Regions from separate parts of the Homo sapiens genome. Here regions 1 and 3 are each reported to be linked to region 2. Evidence: microRNA targets listed by miRTarBase, many of them from high-throughput screens and not tested one by one. Region 2 holds a microRNA gene; each other region holds the end of a gene's coding sequence.
Evidence for each region. Region 2 holds the annotated microRNA hsa-miR-7844-5p (AAAACUAGGACUGUGUGGUGUA, at 3,649-3,670, shown strand). A microRNA usually pairs through its seed, bases 2 to 8, with sites in the 3' UTR of a target mRNA and lowers its output. Matches are read on the target gene's strand: a 7mer-m8 pairs with bases 2 to 8, a 7mer-A1 pairs with bases 2 to 7 and ends in A, and an 8mer does both.

Region 1: miRTarBase lists ZNF543 as a target of hsa-miR-7844-5p. Seed matches in the 3' UTR shown: 7mer-A1 at 6,168-6,174.
Region 3: miRTarBase lists MED14 as a target of hsa-miR-7844-5p. Seed matches in the 3' UTR shown: 7mer-A1 at 1,893-1,899 and 7mer-m8 at 2,433-2,439.

Annotation. Positions count from the first base shown.
Region 1 is chr19:57,328,460-57,335,657 of GRCh38, reverse strand. ZNF543 (zinc finger protein 543) reads right to left here. Exons shown (of 4, transcript NM_213598.4): 4 at 4,888-7,198. The coding sequence ends at 6,393. Among named protein-coding and RNA genes, the nearest start is that of ZNF543, 12 kb to the right of the region's middle.
Region 2 is chr12:94,567,787-94,574,975 of GRCh38, reverse strand. MIR7844 (microRNA 7844) reads left to right here and starts at 3,624; the gene lies at 3,624-3,745. TMCC3 (transmembrane and coiled-coil domain family 3) reads left to right here. Exons shown (of 4, transcript NM_020698.4): 4 at 3,239-7,189. The coding sequence ends at 3,541.
Region 3 is chrX:40,645,650-40,652,811 of GRCh38, reverse strand. It overlaps MED14 (mediator complex subunit 14), which reads left to right. Exons shown (of 31, transcript NM_004229.4): 31 at 933-4,507. The coding sequence ends at 1,006. CXorf38 (chromosome X open reading frame 38) reads left to right here and starts at 5,251. Exons shown (of 7, transcript NM_144970.3): 1 at 5,251-5,507; 2 at 5,671-5,805. The coding sequence starts at 5,292. RefSeq lists silencers at 5,035-5,215, 5,051-5,350, 5,471-5,620 and an enhancer at 5,871-6,070.

The DNA of each region.
Region 1 (7,198 bases), not on the chromosome of region 2:
TTCTTTTTTTTTTTGAGACAGAGTCTTGCCCTGCCGCCAGGCTGGAGTGCAGTGGTGCGATCTCAGCTCACTGCACCCTCCGCCTCCCGAGTTCAAGCGATTCTTCTGCCTCAGCCTTCCGAGTACCTGGGATTACAGGAGCCCGCCACCACGCCAGCTAATTTTTGTATTTTTAGTAGAGATGGGGTTTCACCATGTTGGCCAGGATGGTCTCCATCTCTTGACCTCATGATCTGCCCGCCTCAGCCTCCCAAAGTGCTGGGGTTACAGGCGTGAGCCACCGTGCTCGGCCAAAAGAGCACACTTCTAAATAACCCATGTGTCACAGATAATTTCTTAAATGGAATCGAGAAATAGTTAAGCTGAATGAAAATATAATTACAATATAGGAAAATGTAAGATGGAGCTCAAACAGTGCTGAGTTTAGCTTATAAAACTAAATGCTTATGTTAGAATAAAGTCTCTAATGATAATCTAAGCTCCCACCTCAAGAATCTACAAACAGCAATATACAACCAAAACAAGTAGAAAAAGAAAATAATAATGATCAGAATAGAAATCAAAGTCAGAACACATAGAAAATCAATGACACAGAAAGCTGGTTCTTTGAAATAGTCAATAAAATTTATAAACATCTAAGAAGATTAACAAAGATAAAGAAGACACACATAACCACTATTAGGAATAAAACAAAGGATACAACTATAGAACCTTCTGTCATGAAGGGAATAATAAGGGAATACTTCAAATAAATAACTCCACAAATTTAAGTTACAAAACTTAGATGAAATGGAACAATTCCTCAAAAATAATAATCTATCAAAACCCACCCAATATGAAATAGTTTGAGTACCTATTAAGTTGAATGACTACGTAATTCAAACCTTCCACAAGAGAAACCTCCAGACTTAAATGGTTTCACCAAAAAATTCTACCGAATACTTAAAGAAACAACACCAATTCTACAAAATGTCATGCAAATAAAAAGGGGGTGGCACTGGAGGAAAAATTCCCAGTTGATTTTGGGAGGCCAGTATTAGTCAAACACCAAAATCAGATAAAGTGAAAACAAACAAATAAAACTACTGACCAACATTGCTCATTGTAGTGGTCCCCAACTCCCCTTTCTGTGTCCTGGCCTAGAAGTGCAAGGTGCCTTGACAGCTCTGTGACCCTGGACCAAGTGCATGTCTTCCCCTGCAGGCTTAAACGTAAGCTAGGGATTGGAATGCCCAGGCACTGACAGTTACATTGTTGCCCGAAACACTGAGAGATCAAACATGTTGCTAAACATGTAGAAACTGGCCCTGGATCTGAGCCAAATTCCTTAAGCCCTCATATACTCTCCATAACCCAAACTTCTCATTGCAGACGTACACAAGTAGAGCTTTTTTTTTTGTTTGCTGTCCAACACAAGGACACACTGCAGCCCCCACAACCCTGTATGAAAGTTCCTCCGAACAATGATTTGAACTGATTACCCTGGTGTTTTATGCTCCTTTCTTTGGAATCCCAACAGGTCCTATCTCAGGACTTTTTGAAACAGTCCCTTCTGGGAACCCCTCTGCCACTTTTGATGAAATTCCAGCCACATATTTGGCCAGATGGAATACTCATGATTTCAGATACAAAATTTCTCAATAAAATACTAGCAAATGGAATGTTGTAATTAAAAGAAATCATATTCCAATTAGCCAGGCATGGTGGCACATGACAGTAGTCCAAGCTATTCGGGAGGCTGAAGCAGAAGAATCGCTTGAACCTGGGAAGTGGAGGTTGCAGTGAGCCGAGATCGTGCCACTGTACTCCAGCCTGGGTGACAGAGACTTCGTCTCAAAAAAAAAAAAAAAATCATATTCCATGACCTGGTGGGGTTTATCCCAGGAGTGCAAGGCTGGCCTACATTCAAAAAGCGGCCAGGCATGGTAGCTCATGCCTGTAATTCCAGTACTTTGGGAGGCCGAGGTGGGCGGATCCCTTGAGGTTGGGAGTTCGAGACTAGCCTGGCCAACATGGTGAAACCCCATCTCTACTAAAAATACAAAAATTAGCTGGGCATGGTGGTGCACGCCTGTAGTCCCAGCTACTTGGGAGGCTGAGGCAAGAGAATTGCTTGAACCTGGGAGGCGGAGGTTGCAGTGAGCTGAGATTGCTCCACTGCTGCACTCCAGCCTTGGCGAAAGAGTGAGACTTGGTCTCAAAAAAACAACAAAACATTCTAAAATCAGTTAAAGCCATCCATCATAACAGGCTAAAGAAGAAAAATTACATGATCATATCAATTGAAGGGGGAAAAGCATTTGGCAAATTACATGCCCATTCACAATAAAAGCCCTCAGCAACTCAGAAGGGAAACTTTCTAAAGAACATGTACATAAAAGTCTACAGGTATTATATTTAACGATCTACACTGAATGCTTTCTCCCAAACATCAAGAAAAAGGCAAGTATGTCCTCTTTCACCATTTCTATTCAACATCACACTGGAAGTTCTAGCTAGTGCAATAAACACAAGAAAAGGAAATAAAAGTAATATAGATTGGGTAGGTGAAATAAGATGTTTGGGCCAGGAGCAGTGGCTCATGCCTATAATTCCAGCACTTTGGGAGGCTGAGGCAGGAGGCTCACTTGAGCTCAGGAGTTTGAGACCCGTCTGGCAACATGGTGAAACCTCATCTCTACAAAATACACAAATATTAGCTGGGCATAGTGGAGTGTGCTAGTAATCCCAGCTACTCGAGAGGCTGAGGGTAAAAATTCCTTGAACCCGAGAGGCAGAGGTTGCAGTGAGCCAAGATCGCACCACTGTACTCCAGCTTAGGTGACAGAACAAGAGTGTCAAAAAAAAAAAAAAAAAGTAGAAGTAAGATGTTTGATGTTTGCTAATAACATTAATATTTATGAAGAAAATCCTAAGAAAGCTATTAAAAAATGTTGCTGGAACTACTGACTTCAGCAAAGTCACAGAATACATATAAAAATTCTAATTTATATATTTCTCTATAATTGCAAGTATCAAGTGCAAACTGAAATTTAAAACTCAATACAACATATAATGGCCCTCTAAGAAACTGTCTAGATTTTTAAAATATGTCCATAATCTATAAGCTGAAAATTACAAAACCCTTATGAAATAAATCAACGAGGACCTCAATAAACAGAGGGACGTACCATATTCATGAACTGCAAGACTCAACAAGATGTCAATTCCCACCAAAACGATCTTTAGATTTAAGGCAATTTATATCAAAATCCCAGCAACATATTTCATAGAGACAAACATGCAATAAAATGTATATACAAAGCCAAAGGAAACAATTGATATGAAAGCCAAATCAATTTTTATTTTTTATTTATTTTTTGAGACAGGGTCTCACTCTGTCACCCAGGCTGGAGTGTAGTGGCACCATCTCAGCTCACTGCAACTTCCACCTCCCGGGTTCAAACAATTCTTCTGCCTCAGCCTCCCGAGTAGCTGGGACTACAGGCGCCTGCAACCTTGCCTGGCTAGGTTTTGTATTTTTTAAATAGAGACGAGTTTTCATCATATTGGCCAGGCAGGTCTTGAACTCCTGACCTCATGTAATCTGCCCACCTTGGCCTCCGAAAGTGTTGGGATTACAGGCGTGAGCCACCATGCCTGGCCCCAAATCAATTTTTAAAAAGAATAAAGAGTGAGGAATAAGTTTACCCTATTTTAAAATTTAGTAGATAGCAATAGTAATCAAAATAGAGTGGTATTGGCATAGGTTTAGGCTCGAAGACCAATGGAATAACATAGAGAACCAAGAAATAGACCAACATGAATATACTTAAATAATTTTTTGCTAAGGTGTAAAAGCAATTCAATAGAGGCAGAATAGTCTTTTCAAGAAATGGAGCTTAAAAAAATTCATGGGCAACAACAAAAGAAACTAAAGTTCATACTGTAATACAAAAATTAACTTAACATGAATCAGATCCAATGTAGAAGATAAAATTTGTAGGAGGAAATACGATAGAAAACCTGGTGAGGAGTTCTTAGACATGACATAAAAAGGACAAGGAGGGCCAGGCGTAGTGGCCACGCCTGTAATCCCAACACTTTGGAAGGTTGAGCCAGGCAGATCACAAGGTTAAGAGATGAAGACCATCCTGGCCAACATGGTGAAACCCCATCTCTACTAAAAATACAAAAATTAGCTGGGTGTGGTGGCACAAACCTGTAGTCCCAGCTACTTGGGAGGCTGAGGCAGGAAAATCACTTGAACCCGGAAGGTGGAGGCGGCTGCAGTGAGCCGAGATCTCACCACTGCACTCCAGCCTGGGCAACAGAGCGAGACTCCATCTCAATTAAAAAAAAAAAAGGACCAAGAGATGTCTTCAAAATAATGACATGAATTAATGCAGTACAAAATGGCTTTGCCTACAATAGAAAACTATACAAGTGTTCACTAAAAGGCTGTGAGCGCTGGGCGCAGTGGCTCACACCTGTAATCCCAGCACTTTGGGAGGCCGAGGCAGGTGGATCACCTGTCAGGAGTTCGAGATCAGCCTGACCAACATGCAGAAACCCCATCTCTATTAAAAATACAAAATTAGCTGGGCGTGGTGGCGCATGCCTGTAATCCCAGCTACTTGGGAGGCTGAAGAAGAATCGCTTGAACTCGGGAGGCAGAGGTTGCAGTGAGCCAAGACTGTGCCACTGAACTCCAGCCTGAGCAACAAGAGCAAAACTCTGTCTCCAAAAAAAAAAAAAAAAAAAAGGCTCTGAGGAGGGAAGTCCCACTTGGACACCCCTCTCTTCTCAGAAGAGAGCTAGTCTCTTTTCTCTTTCTTTTGCCTATTAAACCTCTGCTCCTAAACCAAGTAAGTAAATAAGTAAATAAATAAAAAAGGCTTTGAGGAGTTCAAAGTGAATACATGATTATTTTTACTTCTGTACAATATATTTAATATGAGGTAAAACTATCACATGGCTCAAAATCTAGTCTTAAAAATATAAAAAAGGAATTACAAAACGCTCTAAATGTGTAGCATTTTAATCAAGCCTAAGTCCATGGTGACAACTGTGAAAGTCACACATCCCTACATATATGCATGCCGGCTTGCCTGTTAAAATTCCAGTTAAAGTGAATTTTCACACACTCTTTAAAAAGATTAAAAATGACATTCCTTCTATGTTTGTTCTTCTGAGTTTATCATGATCTTTCAAAGGAATTCAGCTACATACTGTATTTTTGGGGGGGCCTTAATTTGACCTTTAGAAAACTGAGGTGGACCTAACTCAAAGGAGAGGTAAAGAAGCTGAGAAACCACAATCATAGGAAAAAACTAAGATTCCCAGGATTACTGTGGGCATGAACAATTACACTATCATCCCTATCCCAGGAAAACTTAAAAAAAAAAAAAAAAAGTAAATCCACATCAAGAAAAAGTATGTGTATTGGGTAAAGACACATGGTGAAACATTTTTTTAAACAAGCATCTGAAGTGGACAATGTGTCCAAACATATGTACATCCTTATCTCCTTATAAAAGTGTTTCATAACTCAAGCCTCCATATTTTTTATAAAGATGTATGCTTCTGCACCTCGAGAGTGGAGAACGTTGCAGGACTAAGCAAGTTTTCACAAAATGTTTTCAAGCCCTCGTTTGTATAACTGTTCTGACACTGGGCAGCAGTGAATGCATACACAGAAAAATAAAGGGGATGAGATCTTTCGTTTCTGAAACATTTCCCTCTCCCACATAAAATAACAAAGGGACGACAAAATTGCCATAGGCTTGTCAGACAAGTCTAAAAGAAGCTGTGGTTTCTTTCTCTTCCCTATATTTCCTCTTCCTTTGTTTAAATATCCCTGAGATGGCCGGGCGCGGTGGCTCACGCCTGTAATCCCAGCACTTTGGGAGGCTGAGGCGGGCGGATCACGAGGTCAGGAGATCGAGACCATCCCGGCTAAAACGGTGAAACCCCGTCTCTACTAAAAATACAAAAAATTAGCCAGGCGTAGTGGCGGGTGCCTGTAGTCCCAGCTACTTGGGAGGCTGAGGCAGGAGAATGGCGTGAACCCGGGAGGCGGAGCTTGCAGTGAGCCGAGATCCCGCCACTGCACTCCAGCCTGGGCGACAGAGCGAGACTCCGTCTCAAAAAAAAAAAAAAAATATCCCTGAGATAATATTTCACTGTAAACTAAGAAGAAAGATGTGGCTGAAAGTTTTCCTAAGTGCATAGCAACCACTGGGTCTCTCTCATGGGTGAATTCTCAGGTGGAGAATAAGACTCCAGGCTGGTTCAATTTCTAACTTGATTGTTTAGACGACAAATGATCATCTATTACACGTTTTCTCAAAGAGAGGATGCTTATGAAGTTTCTCTTCAGTGTGAATGGCCAGATGGTAAGATGTTCCCTTTCACCACAGATTTTCTTCAGTGGTGATATTCAAAAACTCTTTCCCTAATAAAAGTTCCTGGATGTTGACTGAAGTCTGTGCAGTCATAAAAGGTCTTCCCACATCTGTTACAATGGTAGGGTTTCTCCCAGTATGAATCCTTTGATGATGTGTGAGGGATGAGCCGCGATTAAAAGCCTTTCCACACTCACTGCATTCATACGGCTTCTCTCCAGTGTGAATGATGGAGTGTCGAATAAGGTTTGCGCTCCGGCAAAAGGCTTTCCCACACTGGATGCATTCATAGGGTTTCTCTCCAGTGTGAATCTGTTGGTGCCTCGTGAGGTGTGAGCTGCGGTTGAAGGCCTTTCCACACTCCACGCACTCATAGGGTTTCTCTCCAGTGTGGATGCTGAAGTGGCGAATGAGGTCTGCCCTATCACTAAAGGCTTTTCCACATTCTTTGCATTCATAGGGTTTTTCTCCTGTGTGGGTCCTTTTATGCAAGACAAAAGTGGAGCAGTGGGTGAAGGCCTTTCCACATTCACTGCATTCATAAGGCTTCTCCCCAGTGTGAATCCGTTGATGCTGCTTGAGGTGTGACCTACGGTTGAACGCCTTCCCACACTCCATGCACTTATAGGGCTTCTCCCCAGTGTGGATAATGTAGTGTTGAATGAGGTCTGCACTCTCGCAAAAAGCTTTTCCACACTCGTTGCATTCAAAGGGTTTCACTCCAGTGTGAATCTGTTGGTGCCACGTGAGGTATGACCGGCGGTTGAAGGCCTTCCCACACTCAATGCACTCATAGGGCTTCTCTCCCGTGT
Region 2 (7,189 bases):
AAATTCCTTGGAATTCACCCTTAATTTTCTTGGATTTTTCTTTTGGTTAAAAAAAATTGACAGCAGTTGTAAGACAATTCTAAGATCGGTCTATTTGTACACGTAATTCATTTTATAATCAAAGATTCATGGATTTTCCTAAAAGGTTGGTCTTTTGTCTTGTTCCATCACCTTTTCTGTGTTATGCCTAAAATAGAGGAAACCTTGGACCCAAGTAGTTGAAAAGAACACATGATTTCTAGTACATGCCTGTTATTGCTGAAAGCCAGCACTTTCTAGAATGTAAGATCTGAAGAAGTTTTATCCTTTTCGTTGGTAGCCTAGTATAATAGAAGTTACTATAGTAACAGAGAACCTGTTCTTTGGCCCATAGAGTTATTCAGCAGAAGAAAAGCAAATCAATCTTGGAGCCATTATTCTTGTTTAAAACCTGAAAAGGTGACTATATTTTAATTGAGCAAACACAGATGGGCAAATGAGTTAGAACAGAGAGGGGCACATTGTACTACCTCTAGTTAGATCCTTTTCACCCAGCAGGCCTGAAGGTTTCTCTCTCAAGCCTCACATTCTGTTTTTTTTTTTTGTTTTTTGAGACCGTCTTACTGTGTTGCCTGGGCTGGAGTGTAGTGGCGTGATCTCGGCTCACTGCAACCTCCGCCTCCTGGGTTCAAGTGATTCTCCTGCCTCAACCTCCTGAGTAGCTGGTATTACAGGTGCATGCCACCATGCCCAGCTAATTTTTGTATTTTTTTTTTAGTAAAGAGGGGGTTTCACCATATTGGCCAGGCTGGTCTTGAACTCCTGATCTCAAGTGATCCACCCGCCTCGGCCTCCCAGAATGCTGGGATTACAGGCATGCGCCACTGTACCCATCAAGCCTCACATTCTCTTACTGGCACCTAGCTGTCTCTTTCATATTCAGCCAGTGTGTGGCACGTGCTGCATGCCTGGCGCTGGCTCTGTGCTGGAGAGGACAGCAAATGCAAGATGGGCTAGTTCCTGTCCTCAGGCAGCGTATGTCTTGTGGTTGGGGAGGAGAGCTGAAGGGAGACTTGATCTCATCTCATGGATCAGGAAAGGCTTCCCCAGGGATGTGGCAATCAAGGCGAGACCTAAAAAATGAGTGGGAGATCCACGGGTGAAGAAGGGATGGAGTGGGGGAGGCACATGTCTCAGGCAGAGTGTACTGAATATGCAGAAGCCCTGAGGTGAGTCTGTGCTCCTTTTCAGAACTTAGAATAAAGCTGTGTGTGGTGGCTCGCACTTGTAATTCCAGTCATTCAGGAGGAATGGAGGCAGGAGACCAGAGGTTGAGGTTGAAGTGAGCTCTGACTGTGCCATTGCACCCTAGCCTGGGCAACAGAGTGAGACCCTGTCTCTTAAAAGAAAAAAAGAACTTAGAAAAGGCCAGAGTACTGTGACAGGGCAAGCGGCTGGCATGAAGTCATTAAGTGAGGGAGGAGAGGGAGCTGAACCTGGCCTTGCAAGGCCTCAGAAGGCCATATTAAAGATTGTAAAGGTTTTATGAAAAGGAGTGATACCAAATATGCATCCTTAAAAGACCGCTTGGGTGGCTGTGTGGAAAATGGATTCGTAAGGGTGGGGAACAAAAGAGTGTATAGGGAAATTCGTGTAAGGTTATTGCAGGCAGGAGATCCCGGTGACTTAGATTGGGGTGCTGACCGGGTGGAGAGAGAACCGGACCAATTGAGCTAGAAACTGGATGTTGCCTCCGTGGCTGGGCGACGGGTTGGATGAGAAGGGTATCAGGGTATGCCCGTTAGGCTTCTGGTATGAGGAACTGGGTGGATCATGGTGCTGTACTCTGAGAAGAAGGACACTGGAAGGGAAGAGGGTTGACTGCAGGTGTTGGGTAGCTGCAATACATGAAGCCACATTTGTACGTGTTGCATTTGAGGTGCTTTCAGGAAGCTCTGATGGAGATGTCAAAGAGGCATGGAGATCTGTGAGTCAATCTCAGAAGAAGAACTGGCCTAGAGATACACTTGTAGCCATCTGTGTCTTAGTAATTGAAGACTTGGCATGGACGAGATCCAGGGAGATAGCCTCGGATGGTGTCCTGAGTAACACCGCGTTCAGAGAGCAGGTGAAAGCACAGTTGCCCCACAGTCAGCCCCAGTCCCTTCCCCTCCCTTCTCTCGCCTTCCTCCGCCAATCTCTAACTGATGGACAAAAATCTTTGAGCGGTGGAAATAAGGACTGACCATTGGAGATCCCACACACTCCTTGGCTGAAAGGTGGAGTAGTCACAAAGTGGAACCTCCCTCCTTCTCTGCTTTGTCCCTGATGGCACCAACAGGCACCAATATTTTATATCACTTTATTTCAAAAATAGGTAAAGTCAGGCTGGGCATGGTGGCTCACGCCTGTAATTCCACCACTGTGGGAGGCCATGGCAGGCAGATCACTTGAGGTCAGGAGTTTGAGACCAGCCTGGCCAACATGGTAAAACCCTGTCTCTACTAAAAATACAAAAATTAGCCAAGCGTGGTGGCGTGCACCTGTAATCCCAGCTACTCAGGAGGCTGAGGCAGGAGAATTGCTTAAACCCAGAAGGCAGAGGTTGCAGTGAGCCGAGATCACGCCACTGCACTCCAGCCTGGGTGACAGAGTGAAACTCTGTCTCAAAAAAAAAAAAAAAAAAAAAAGATGAAGTCGGCTGGGCATGGTGGCTCACACCTATAATCCCAGCATTCTGGGAGGCCGAGGTGGGCCGATCACGAGGTCAGGAGATCGAGACCTTCCTTGCCAATATGGCGAAACCCCATCTCTACTAAAAATACAAAAATTAGCCAGACATGGTGGTGCGCACCTGTAGTCCCAGCTACTTGGGGGGCTGAGGCAGGAGAGTTGCTTGAACCCAGGAGGCGGAGGTTGCAGTGAGCTGAGATCGCACCACTGCACTCCAGCCTGGCGACAGAGCAAGACTACATCTCAAAAAAAACAGGTAAAGTCAAAAAACTTAGCCATACTTCCTCATTTATGGTATTTTGTGGTTGTATCCACATGCTCTTCTACTCGTGAACAACAGGAGAAAATGAGCCTGGGATTCTTGTTCCACATCTTTGTCTATCACCATCATCATCGGTTTGGGGATTTGCAGCCGCCTGGGCATTGGGCTTTCTGAGCTGGGGCTTTTGTGTACAGCTGAGCGAGCACTCACGTGTTGCTCACCATCCCAACACCGTTTGACCCTTGCTCTCCCTCTTGCTCACAGGAAGCCTTGGAATCCTGCCAGACTCGCATTTCTAAGCTGGAGCTCCACCAGCAAGAGCAGCAAGCTCTGCAGACAGACACCGTGAATGCTAAAGTTCTCCTGGGGAGGTGCATCAACGTGATCCTGGCCTTCATGACTGTCATCTTAGTGTGTGTGTCCACCATCGCGAAGTTCGTCTCACCCATGATGAAGAGTCGCTGCCACATTCTTGGCACCTTCTTTGCCGTGACTCTTCTTGCTATATTTTGTAAAAACTGGGACCATATCCTGTGTGCCATAGAAAGGATGATAATACCAAGATGAAGCCACTGGTTCCTGCCTTCAAGTTCTTTCAAGTTTTTATTTTAAAGAAAACTCTGTGCATACTACCAAATTTTACAGTGAATGATTGTGCGGACTCGTGTGTAAGAAAAACTAGGACTGTGTGGTGTAAATAACTACAATTCTCTTAACTCCGTAGCAGTTGCCAACTCAGTCCTTGTACTTCGTTAACACGAATCTGTTTCAGAGCTCTCCTACCTTGCTCACTGCCTTAATCAGACCGATTTCCTGCCCACCTGACCAGCCCAGCGTGGTAAACCTCTGTATATTGAGACCTTGGCATAATTGGTGATCCTGAAGAAAGAGGTCTCTCTCCTAAGTCTCTGTCAGAATTGAGCTTCACAATTGCTAATGGTTGTTTTCTGTGAGTCCTATAAAAAGCAAGGATATGCATGATTCAGGGAATGAAGAATCACAGGCTTGGGCAGTGTTAAACACTGTGGCCTATGGTCCCCGTGTGATCCACCCTGCTTCTCTCCAGGGGACCATAGGTCCCGTCATGTACTCAGTGTCCACAGCAGTCAGTCGTGTATGACCCTGTAACGTGGAAATCTTATCACACACCTGTTATCCAACAAGTCTACCTGAGGGGTTTTGTTACACTTTAAATGGGAAGGCATAGGGATTTATGAATGGGGCTTTCACCTTCTCATACCCAGGCAACCAACACCTGATTTTGTCTCAACTGGCTAGCAAATGCCCAGCCTTCAGAGTGTGCAGGAATGTTTTCAAATCCCTCATCAGACTGTGACTTTAACATTAATTTGGAATCCTGTGAGCACTACTCTGAAGGTTTGTGTTTTGGCAAATCTTTTTTCTTTTTTGAGACAGGGCTCTGCTAAATATTGCTCAGGCTGGTTGCAAACTCCTTGCTTCAAGGGATCCTCCCACCTCAGCCTCCCAAGCAGCCGGGACTGCAGGCACAAGCCACCATGCCTGGCTGTTTTTTGGCAAATCTTGATTGTGATAAGCCCCCCTGGAGGATATGATTCACTTTATGTGATTCATCTTATTCACAGGTCTGTGAGGGACTGCAAAGCTTACTCAGGAAATGAAAACAAATGATGGTCATGTTGCAGTTTTTTCCTTGAAGGACAACCGAACCATAGCCTCTAAAGTTCAAGTGCACTGAGGTGTCGGAACGCTGAAAGCATGAGGAAACGAGGACGTAGGGTGTGACTGAATGGTGGCTAGATTAGTGGGAGCAGTTCACCTGGATGAAGATTGAGAGCATCGTCTTTGAGAAGTGAAAGACTAGCAAGAATAAAATAAATTAAGTCCAGTGTTTGAGCCAAGGTTGCCACCTGTCTCTTAACATCTCACTGAACATAAGTCCTGAGGTATTAGGACGACCATACTGCCTCTGAGCTGAAAACATTCAAAAGTTCACATCCCTGTTTGGGGGATACCATTCACCGCCTTCAGCCCAGATGATACTTTCCTTTAAATCTGTGTCTCTGTGTGTATAACAAAGAGGAAGATGGAAACAATGTTCATGGAAACTGCTGTTGAGCCCCTTGTCCCACCACTCCCGCCATCTGCTGCAGGCAGGAAGGCATGTGAGTGTACGTTTTCTTCCAGGAGACATCAGGTCCCCCTGGATTCAAATTAAGTGCAATATTTTGCAAACAGCTCTTCTTAGGGAAATCTCCTGAAGGAAAAAAATGTGACAGAATGTTCCATAGTCTGAGAGAATGGAATCGTTGAGCATTTAGTACAAGTCCAGTGTGTGTGAGCGGGACTTAGGCAGCTCAAGCTTGCTTTTTTTTTTAAGCGTACAATTGAGTGGTTTTAGTAAATTCACAAACTTGTTCAACCATCACCACTATCTAATTCCAGACTCACGCTTTTTTAAACAATAAATGTCATTTCATGAAATCTTTGGTGATAAAGTATTTTGGATTCAGAGAAGAGCTCCCTTACCAGTCCCACCCTGATCTCATGGCTGTCTCTCCTTTCATTGTCAGACTCCCCCTGGTCTACCGCGTTGATGTGTATACACTGATCTTTCAAGTCTGGGAGACAGATAAGGAGGCCAGGTGCAAGGCAGGGAGGCAGAGAGAATGTTGTGCTTCCTTTAGCTTTTGTATTTCGATGGCCAGCATTACCCTTTACCTGTGGGCATCAGACTCAGCGTGGGCTGAGTGCTGAGTGTAACTTACACTCCTAAATCAAGCTGGGGCCTGGGTGGGCCCCTCTTGGTATCTGTGAATCTTTCCAAGCACCACTTCGGACACACCAGGGATTGAGTGCTGCTGTTAGTTTAGAGAAGGAGAGATGTCTAACCCTTGAGGTGAAGGGCTCTGGGAGGGTCCAAGAAGACGTAGGCTTCATTTTCACACCAGCCCACACCATTCCAGTGCTCAGCCTAGCAAATGTGCTTTAATGCACACTTCTCAGACCTGTGATCCGTGTATCTTCTCCCCAGTGACAGAAGTAGAGAAGAGAATGGAAAGCAGCACACTCCGTCCCCTCTAGTCTGGAGCTGTTAACAGAATCTGCTAGAAACTAGCTTTATTCTAACATACCGTAGGATCTAAATCCTCCTACCTGGATCATGAATTCCTTTGAAATAATTCATATTTTCATTGACTCTCACTAAATGTCAAATAACCTTGTTTTCACTTGGATAGGCTCAACCTACCTGGCATATTTATTTTGCAGTCTTGTTGAAAGTTCATGAAACTTTGTACTTTTTAATAAGATGATACACTCGAAGGAAACTTTTAATCTCTGCAGTTTATTCTCTCTTAAGGAATAAACACTCCCACTGTTTGTTCTCTTCAATGTGTAAGGAGATTAAATGACATTTTAGAAATATTACAATTAAAAATAGTGATGTAGCTGTAACATATGCTGGAATTGGATATTTAATTTATGTTTGTGTCAACTATAATCCTTTCCCCACCCCTTTCATTTATGGTAAACATCTTGGGCAAACCCAAAGATGGAAAGTGCTTGTTGGGTGGGTAAGCACCACCTGGTCTCTCAGCAAACACTCCTGAGTGGTTGAAGATGCTGGACATTGGATTCTAGCACTGGGTTTATCTGGTGACATAGTCTCCTGTGGGTCTTGAGTTGGTTATTTCAAGCTCAAACTCTGAATATGATTAAACCAGAACACCCCACCCCCAACTGCCAAAAAAAAAAAAAAAAAATGGAAATCCATAATGAAACAGCAAAAAAGTACTCCGTTGCTGGGTTTGGACAATGAACATGGGATTAGTCCCAAGTTTGTAGCTTGGAACGGTAGCATTTTTGCCTGCGTGATCCTTGTCAGCTATTCACAGAAGGAAATCTTCCGAAACTCCGTCTTTCATTTCAGCCGGTGAGGCTGTTATCCTTCTCTGTCAATTAGCATTCATGTGGTTTTCGCTCTTTCCAGCTCTGTCACTCTTGTTTTCATTTAAATATTGCCCCACTCTGTGTTTATTGCCTTGCCATTTCTCTAGCATATCAGGTTTAATTATGGGCTCAGTAATAATGAGGAACTAGCTTCCCTCAGGCAACTAATTACTTTTGTCTTTTTTGGTCGGATTGTACCAAATTATTTTGCATTGAATGGGAATGTTTTTGCAGTGAATCCAGATATAGTTGTATTGGTTTGGAAAAACATTTAAATATATTTAT
Region 3 (7,162 bases), not on the chromosome of region 2:
GGGATCCAGCTTTTGGTTTATAATATTTAAATACTTGTAATAATTACAAGAAGCAGAGTATTTGGTTTCTTTGAGCAAAGGAGAAGTTGACAGGATGAATCGCCAGCACCCTCCCCACCCACAAATCCTGTTTTTGGATTGTTGGTGTACCATACTTCAGTCTCCCACCCCACCTCCCACACCCATCACTTCTCTTCTGATGAAGTGCTTTTAAGAAAATCATTTTTGTATTTAATTGATTTTAATGTTGAACTCTGGAAGTTGACCATTTCCTTGAATTTTGGGAGAAAACTCCAATAGATGTCAGAGACATGCACTGTCCAGTATAACTGCCACTAGCCAGCATGTGGCTATTTAAATTTAAGTTAATGAAAATTAAATAAAACTTTAAATTCAGTTCCTCAGTCACACTAGCTATATTACAAGTGCTTAATAGCCATGGCACACTTATACAACATTTCCATCATCACAAAAAGTTCTATTGGACAGCGCTGTCCTAAACATTTTTATCTGGCCTTTAATGCAACGTTTGAAAGATACCACCAAAGTTGTAACTAATGCATAAATATAAACTAGATGTTTTTATGATATCCAAAATGCCCTTATAAGCACTCAGTAGCCTTAAAGCCCAACTTCAAAGGCTTATCTAATGCTACAGTGTTTCTAAACAGAAACTCTAGACATATCTTCCTAAATACAAACCTAACTGGGACTTGCTTGAAGTTTCCTCCTGAGAAAAAAAATCCAAACCAAATATAATCTGATACTTAACACCACAGCTTAATCCCCAATAATCTGGGCAGTTAAAATTGTCTTTTATTTTGATCTTTAAAGTTCTCACTAATTTTAGATTTAATTACCCCTTCCCTTACCGGTGTGTTAACATCTTTCCTGTGTTGTGAATAGCTAATGACCATTTTTCTCTGTTGCAGGTGAATGCACAATATTTGCAGCTGTTCGTGATTTAATGGCTAATCTTACACTGCCCCCTGGTGGGCGTCCATAGACACTATTGTTTTTAAACCAGGAAGGCTGACAGATGAGACAACAAAAAAAATCTGAATTCAGCCTTCAGTTTAAAAAAGGAAAAGGACTTTTTTTTTAAACTTTAAGAGCTAAATATTCTAAACTGGCAAAAATTTTCAGGGTGCACTTCTTTCATCAAAATGATCATCCATCTTTTGTATAATGAACTTGTATAGTGTGTTTAAATGGGACACATTTCAAAGGAAATAAATCAGTGTCCGTTTGCCAGTAATAAATTTAATATTCTGTTTTATACTATAAAGTTATGAAAATGCCAAACTTGTTTATTTAATTGTTTTCTTATGTTTTGGGTGTAATAGTCCTTTTTTGGTTTTTGTTTTGTTTTTTAAGGCAGGTCTGTCATTTTTGAATACTGTAAAACTGTGATAAACTTTATATTGAAGCTGTATTTTAATATGACCGCTTTGAATCCTTACATGAAATGTTCTGGGAGTTGTTATAAACACACCCCAAGGAAGCAATATTTAATAAAACTAGGTCAAAAACAAAACAAAACAGTGACACTCACTTGTGTGTATATAAACTCTAGAGACATCTTAGGCCCTCCCTTCATCTTTAACCTGGTGGATGGAGCCAGTTATTAATTTATAATAATACATGTCTGAAATTTGACCAAAAACATCTTCTTTATGTCAAGGTTAATATATTTTCTTCAGACATTCCTAACTTGACTAGTGGTTAACATTTAGCACCTTGGTTGTCTTTCAATATATAGGATTTGGGTGAAAAATAAGGAACTTAGTCTTTGAGAAGGGACAGTATGTGGTTCGTATTGATCAAGGATCCCAAATAATGCAATCATTCTCATCTGTTGAGGATGTGGGAACTTTTCTGTCAGGAAAATTTAGTTTACAGAATACTTCTGCATACAACATTAATTAGGAAACAAAGAACTTTAATGCTGTACCTCTGCATGAAGTTTCTGTGAGCTTTCTTTATCTTGCTTAACTTATCCTCCTTTCCTTCCCCACCAAAATTGGGATTGTTCTAAACAATTTCAATTTAATTCATTGTCAACAAAACGATAGAATGTTTTGCTTGGAAGAAACCTGGTCCATTCCCCTCATTGTGAAGAATCCCGAATCCTGGGCCTGTCCAGGGTCAAATGGAGTTTTTGGTATTAATACATCTCTGCAGGGTTTCTTTTTGGAGCACTGTGCTGTCTTTCCTAGTCAGTCAGGGACTTTTTTAAGCTTCAAAGAACATGGTCTGATGCAAAGGTCTTCTACCGACTTCATGGTATTTAGGAAAAATTTTTAAGTGATAATACCATGCCGAGTTACCTGGTCACTGTAATACTGGTTCTCCATTAAAATGTAGATGCTTTGTCTAATTCCACTTCAAGATGATTTAATTGAGCTTCTATAACTATCAACTATCAAATTCTAGTTTCAAGTATCTCACTGTACCTATATCATATCTGTTCTCAACTTTGTTTGATTCTCCACTCATTTTCAATCAGAGTTGAAGCCTTCTTTGCCTTTCTTCTTTGTCTTATTTCTGCCTTCATCTCCCACTTCTCACCCAACTCTGCCACTGTTCAGGAGCAGTTGACTAAACTTTTATCCTTCCTTTAACTTAATCTTTTTATCCTTCTGTTTTTAGTTCTTACAGTGGTAATCACATCAGTTTGGCAATCTAAGATGTCTTTATCAAGGGTCAGCCCTTTTCTATTTGGAGCTGAATCTTTTCTTTCATGTAGAAATCTACATGTATATACAAGAAATGTATTTTTATCTGCAGGATAATATTGTTTCAAATAATTTTATTAAGAGTTAACTTTTTAGGTATTTTCCCTTTTAATGTGGTTTTGAAATGTTAATTGCATTTTTACACATGATGCATTCAGTGGACACTCTTTTTTCCTAATTATAACTCATCTCTGAATGCATTGTGCCAATCAAGAGTAAGATAGGATTCAGTGCGCAAAATTTGCTTTTGATGCTTATTAAGAGTAAACCCATGAATTTGAATTTTTATATTATGCTTGGTACTTGGAATTGATATATACCTTATTAAAGCTTGAAAACATTTAGCATTTGAATAGTAAGTTTCATCACAAATCATGTCTTTTGCCTCTTTTGTTACCCAGGTTCGATCAAGGGGACTGGATGCCCAAGTGATTTTCTCTAATAATCGGGTTGGGACTTAACTTTAAGGTGTTTTCAATGTGATTTTAGTATTTACAGTAATAAATAAAATTTATACAAAGTTTCAGAGAACTACCAACTCTCTAGTTAATTTTGATGAAGATGTTTTCATTAATAGTCTGGTTTAGTATTAATTTAACCTTGAAATAAGAAATTGGTCCTGATTTGCCACCTTCATTTTTCCATCTGCTGAAATGCCATTTCAGAATGTATAAAAGTACTTTCAGAATTAGAAGAAAAGTGAGAGCTTCAGCAGAACGTGTCAAGTCGCTAATAACAGGAGTCGAACCTTATGTTTGAAAATTAACTGAGTGAGTTAAGTGCAAGCATAAACTAAAATTTATATGACTTTGAATTTAAGAACCACTAATAACTGTGTTCTAATTAACACAGTAATCTGTTCAGCCAAAGGATACTAACAGCCATTCTTTGGACTGTGGTTAATTTGATAACTTCAAGAAGTTATAACTTTGCTACCCTGGATTCTGATGCAATTTCAATATAAAAAGTTGTTCCTTTCATAGTTTTTCCCCCCAAAAGAAGTGCCTATTACATTTTACCTTAATGTTTATTTATCATCCAAGTGTTCTTGATATAAAATCAGTATACAGAAAATTTTAAGAGAACTTACATTCAAGGGACATAGAGGGAAAATGTTAATGTGTATTTCATTGTTTCTTGTGGAATTTTTTTTTCATTCGGTTTGAGAATGGACAGTGTGTCTAAGGATGTGATTTAAATTTACTTAGGATGGATTTAGCATTGAGGTTATTAAGACAAAGTTAGCAGAGGCCAGCCAGCACTGTGCTGCACAACTCCAGGAACTCCATGGTATGCTCACAATTTTCTGCAAGTTGCCTCCACTTCCAAGTGGCCAGTGATTTGTTAAAATACCTTGCCCAAGAATATAACTGATTGATGAAAGGGCATATTTAGGTCAATATAAAATAATAGCAAGTATTTACTGAGAGCTTACTGTGTGCTAGGCATTTTCTTAATATTTCAATGTGTATTTAATCCTCACAACAACCCAATGTGGTAGGTTATTGATATCCTCTTCTTAAAAATGAGTAAATGGAGGCCCAGAGAAATGTAATTTGCCTGAGATCAAATTAAGGTTGCTTAAGATCAAACTGCTAAGAAGGGGCAGTTTGAGTCTGAGCTAGTGCTCCTAAACACTGGACATTTTTGCTGTGAACCACAGTCGGGAAGGTTTAATGTTTAGACTCTTTCCTCAGAGGCTTTTAACTACACACAATTTTGACATGTTTTCCAAGCTCAGAAAGCTCATTAAAAACAACTAAAACTGACCTGACTTGTCACTTGGAGTTGACAATCCCAGTGCCTTCTGACCTTTGTGGCACTTCTTTGGAACTTAAATCAGACTTCCATGTGCAAGGAGCACTAATTATCATATAATCAAGAATACTAGATAATTATCGTCTAACCTTTGCTAGGTGCTTCAGGATGCCCTTATCTGGCTCAGGTGTGCAGCCTTCTAGAATCCAAGTGATGTGTTGCCCTAAACAGGCAAACGCCCCCTTCTGGGTGGTCCAGTGGCGGGGGATTTTGAGTTTTGGGTTAGCTTGGCACACCGCAGGCAGCCAGCGGTCACGTTTCACTAATACCTCAATTTGCTACAGCTGGTCTGTGGGCTTAGGAACCAGTAACTCTAGAATTGTATAATGCAAAGAACATACACGATTCAAGCAATGTGCCCTGAGCACCTTGTACATCTGGACAATAAAAAAAAGTTAAAACAGAAGTGCCCTACATTAGGAGAGGGAGTCGAATCGGATGCTGACAGGGTCTCTGTTTGGGGGACGAAGAGGGCCTAAGGGTTTCAAATAGTTAACTGCTTCCCCAAGCACCAAAGTTGTTAGACGTCAGACGTCAGACGTCACCCAAGTGGGGTGGAGCCGACGTGCCCCGGAAGTCAAGATGCCCCGCCCCGGGATCGGTGGCACCGCGCCGCGCAGGCGCAGGCGTCGCTGCCGCCGGCGCAGGCGCCGCTGCCTCGGGTACTTCCCAGGCTCCGCGCCTGCGCACTGCCGTCCGCCACGCCCCGCAACCTCCTGGTTCCAAGTGGGAGACATGGTGCTGTCGGAGCTAGCGGCGCGCCTCAACTGCGCCGAGTACAAGAACTGGGTGAAGGCGGGCCACTGCCTGTTACTGCTGCGCAGCTGCCTGCAGGGTTTCGTCGGCCGCGAGGTGCTCTCCTTCCACCGCGGCCTACTCGCCGCAGCCCCCGGCCTGGGGCCCCGCGCCGTCTGCCGCGGCGGCTCACGGTGCAGCCCTCGCGCCCGCCAGGTGAGCACCTGGCTCGGGGCCTTGACCACCGCCCCCACCCCACCCCTCCTCATCCCCGTTCCTGTCCCAGACCCAGAGCGCAAGTGTCCTGTTCCCTCCGCGATGCGGGGCCCACCGCGACGTCCCTCCCTCCTGGGCCCCTCCTCACCGCCGCCCCCTGTAGTTTCAGCCTCAGTGTCAGGTGTGCGCTGAATGGAAAAGGGAGATTTTGAGACATCATGTCAACAGAAATGGAGATGTGCACTGGGGAAACTGCCGGCCGGGCCGCTGGCCCGTGGACGCCTGGGAGGTGGCCAAGGTAAGCGCCTGAGGCGGGGACGGAAGGAGGAAGCGGCGGGTCACCCAGCACTCGGGGTGGCTATCTGGTCTTGTGGTCGCCGGGGCCTCATAAACAGATGCAGAGAGAGAGATTGATCAAGGGTCTAGGCGGTTCAGGGGTGGTATGCGGGACCCAACCCAGCTTAGTGAAGTAGAAGCTTTCTTCTACCCGTCTGCTTCCTGAGGGCATTTGAGTTTGTTACCCCTGCTTGGAAAGTTACAGGAAAGAGTTCTACAAGAGATACTGGGGCAAGATGCAGAGCGAGCATCATGAGCACAGGCAGGGAGGGAGGGAGACTCTTGTGTGGCCTGTTTGAGGGTAAGGCTCGCTGAACAGCTCATCAGCTCTTTTTTGGCTATAGGATGCCGTAAGGATGACAGAGTAAGCCAAGGGAAGTTAGGGCTAAAATAGCACCTTAAGTGCCCAGTTAAAGGCACTTTGGGTAGCTGGGAATGGGGTAGGCAGCCGGATCTGTCTTCAGATCTTGGCAATGTCACTTACTAAGTAGATCGAGTAGGAAATTTTTTTGCCCAGTAAGGGACGGAGAGGGACAGCCAGAAGTGGCTTCCTAACACAAATTGACTTTAGCAGTCAGTCTACATGCCAGTAGTTATCAGCAGGCACAGGGTGGGCACTGGAAAGGAGCAGTGCCTGGGAAGCAGATGATCTGAGTCCTGGATCAGCTGCCGTGGTGTGACACTGGGCCAGCTTGTGCTCCCCAATCTCAAAAATGAAAGGACGGCCGGGCGCAGTGGCTCACGCCTGTAATCCCAGCACTTTGGGAGGCCGAGGCGGGCGGATCATGAGGTCAGGAGATCGAGACCACGGTGAAACCCCGTCTCTACTAAAAATACAAAAAAATTAGCCGGGCGCAGTGGCGGGCGCCTGTAGTCCCAGCTACTCGGGAGGCTGAGGCAGGAGAATGGCGTGAACCCGGGAGGCGGAGCTTGCAGTGAGCGGAGATCGCGCCACTGCACTCCCGCCTGGGCGACAGAACGAGACTCCGTCTCAAAAAAAAAAAAAAAAAAAAAAAAAAAAAAAAAAAAAAAAAAAAATGAAAGGAATTGGGGCCGGGCGCGGTGGCTCATGCCTGTAATCCCAGCACTTTGGGAGGCCAAGGTGGGAGGATGGCTTGAGCTCAGGAGTTCAAGACCACCCTGGATAACATGGCAAAACCCCGTCTCTACAAAAAAATACAAAAATTAGCTGGGTGTGGTGGTGCATGCCTGTAGTCCCAGCTACTCAGGAGGCTGAGGTGAGAGGATCACTGGAGCCTGGGAAGTCGAGGCTGCAGTGAGCCGTGATCACACCACTGCATTCCAGCCTGGGTGACAGA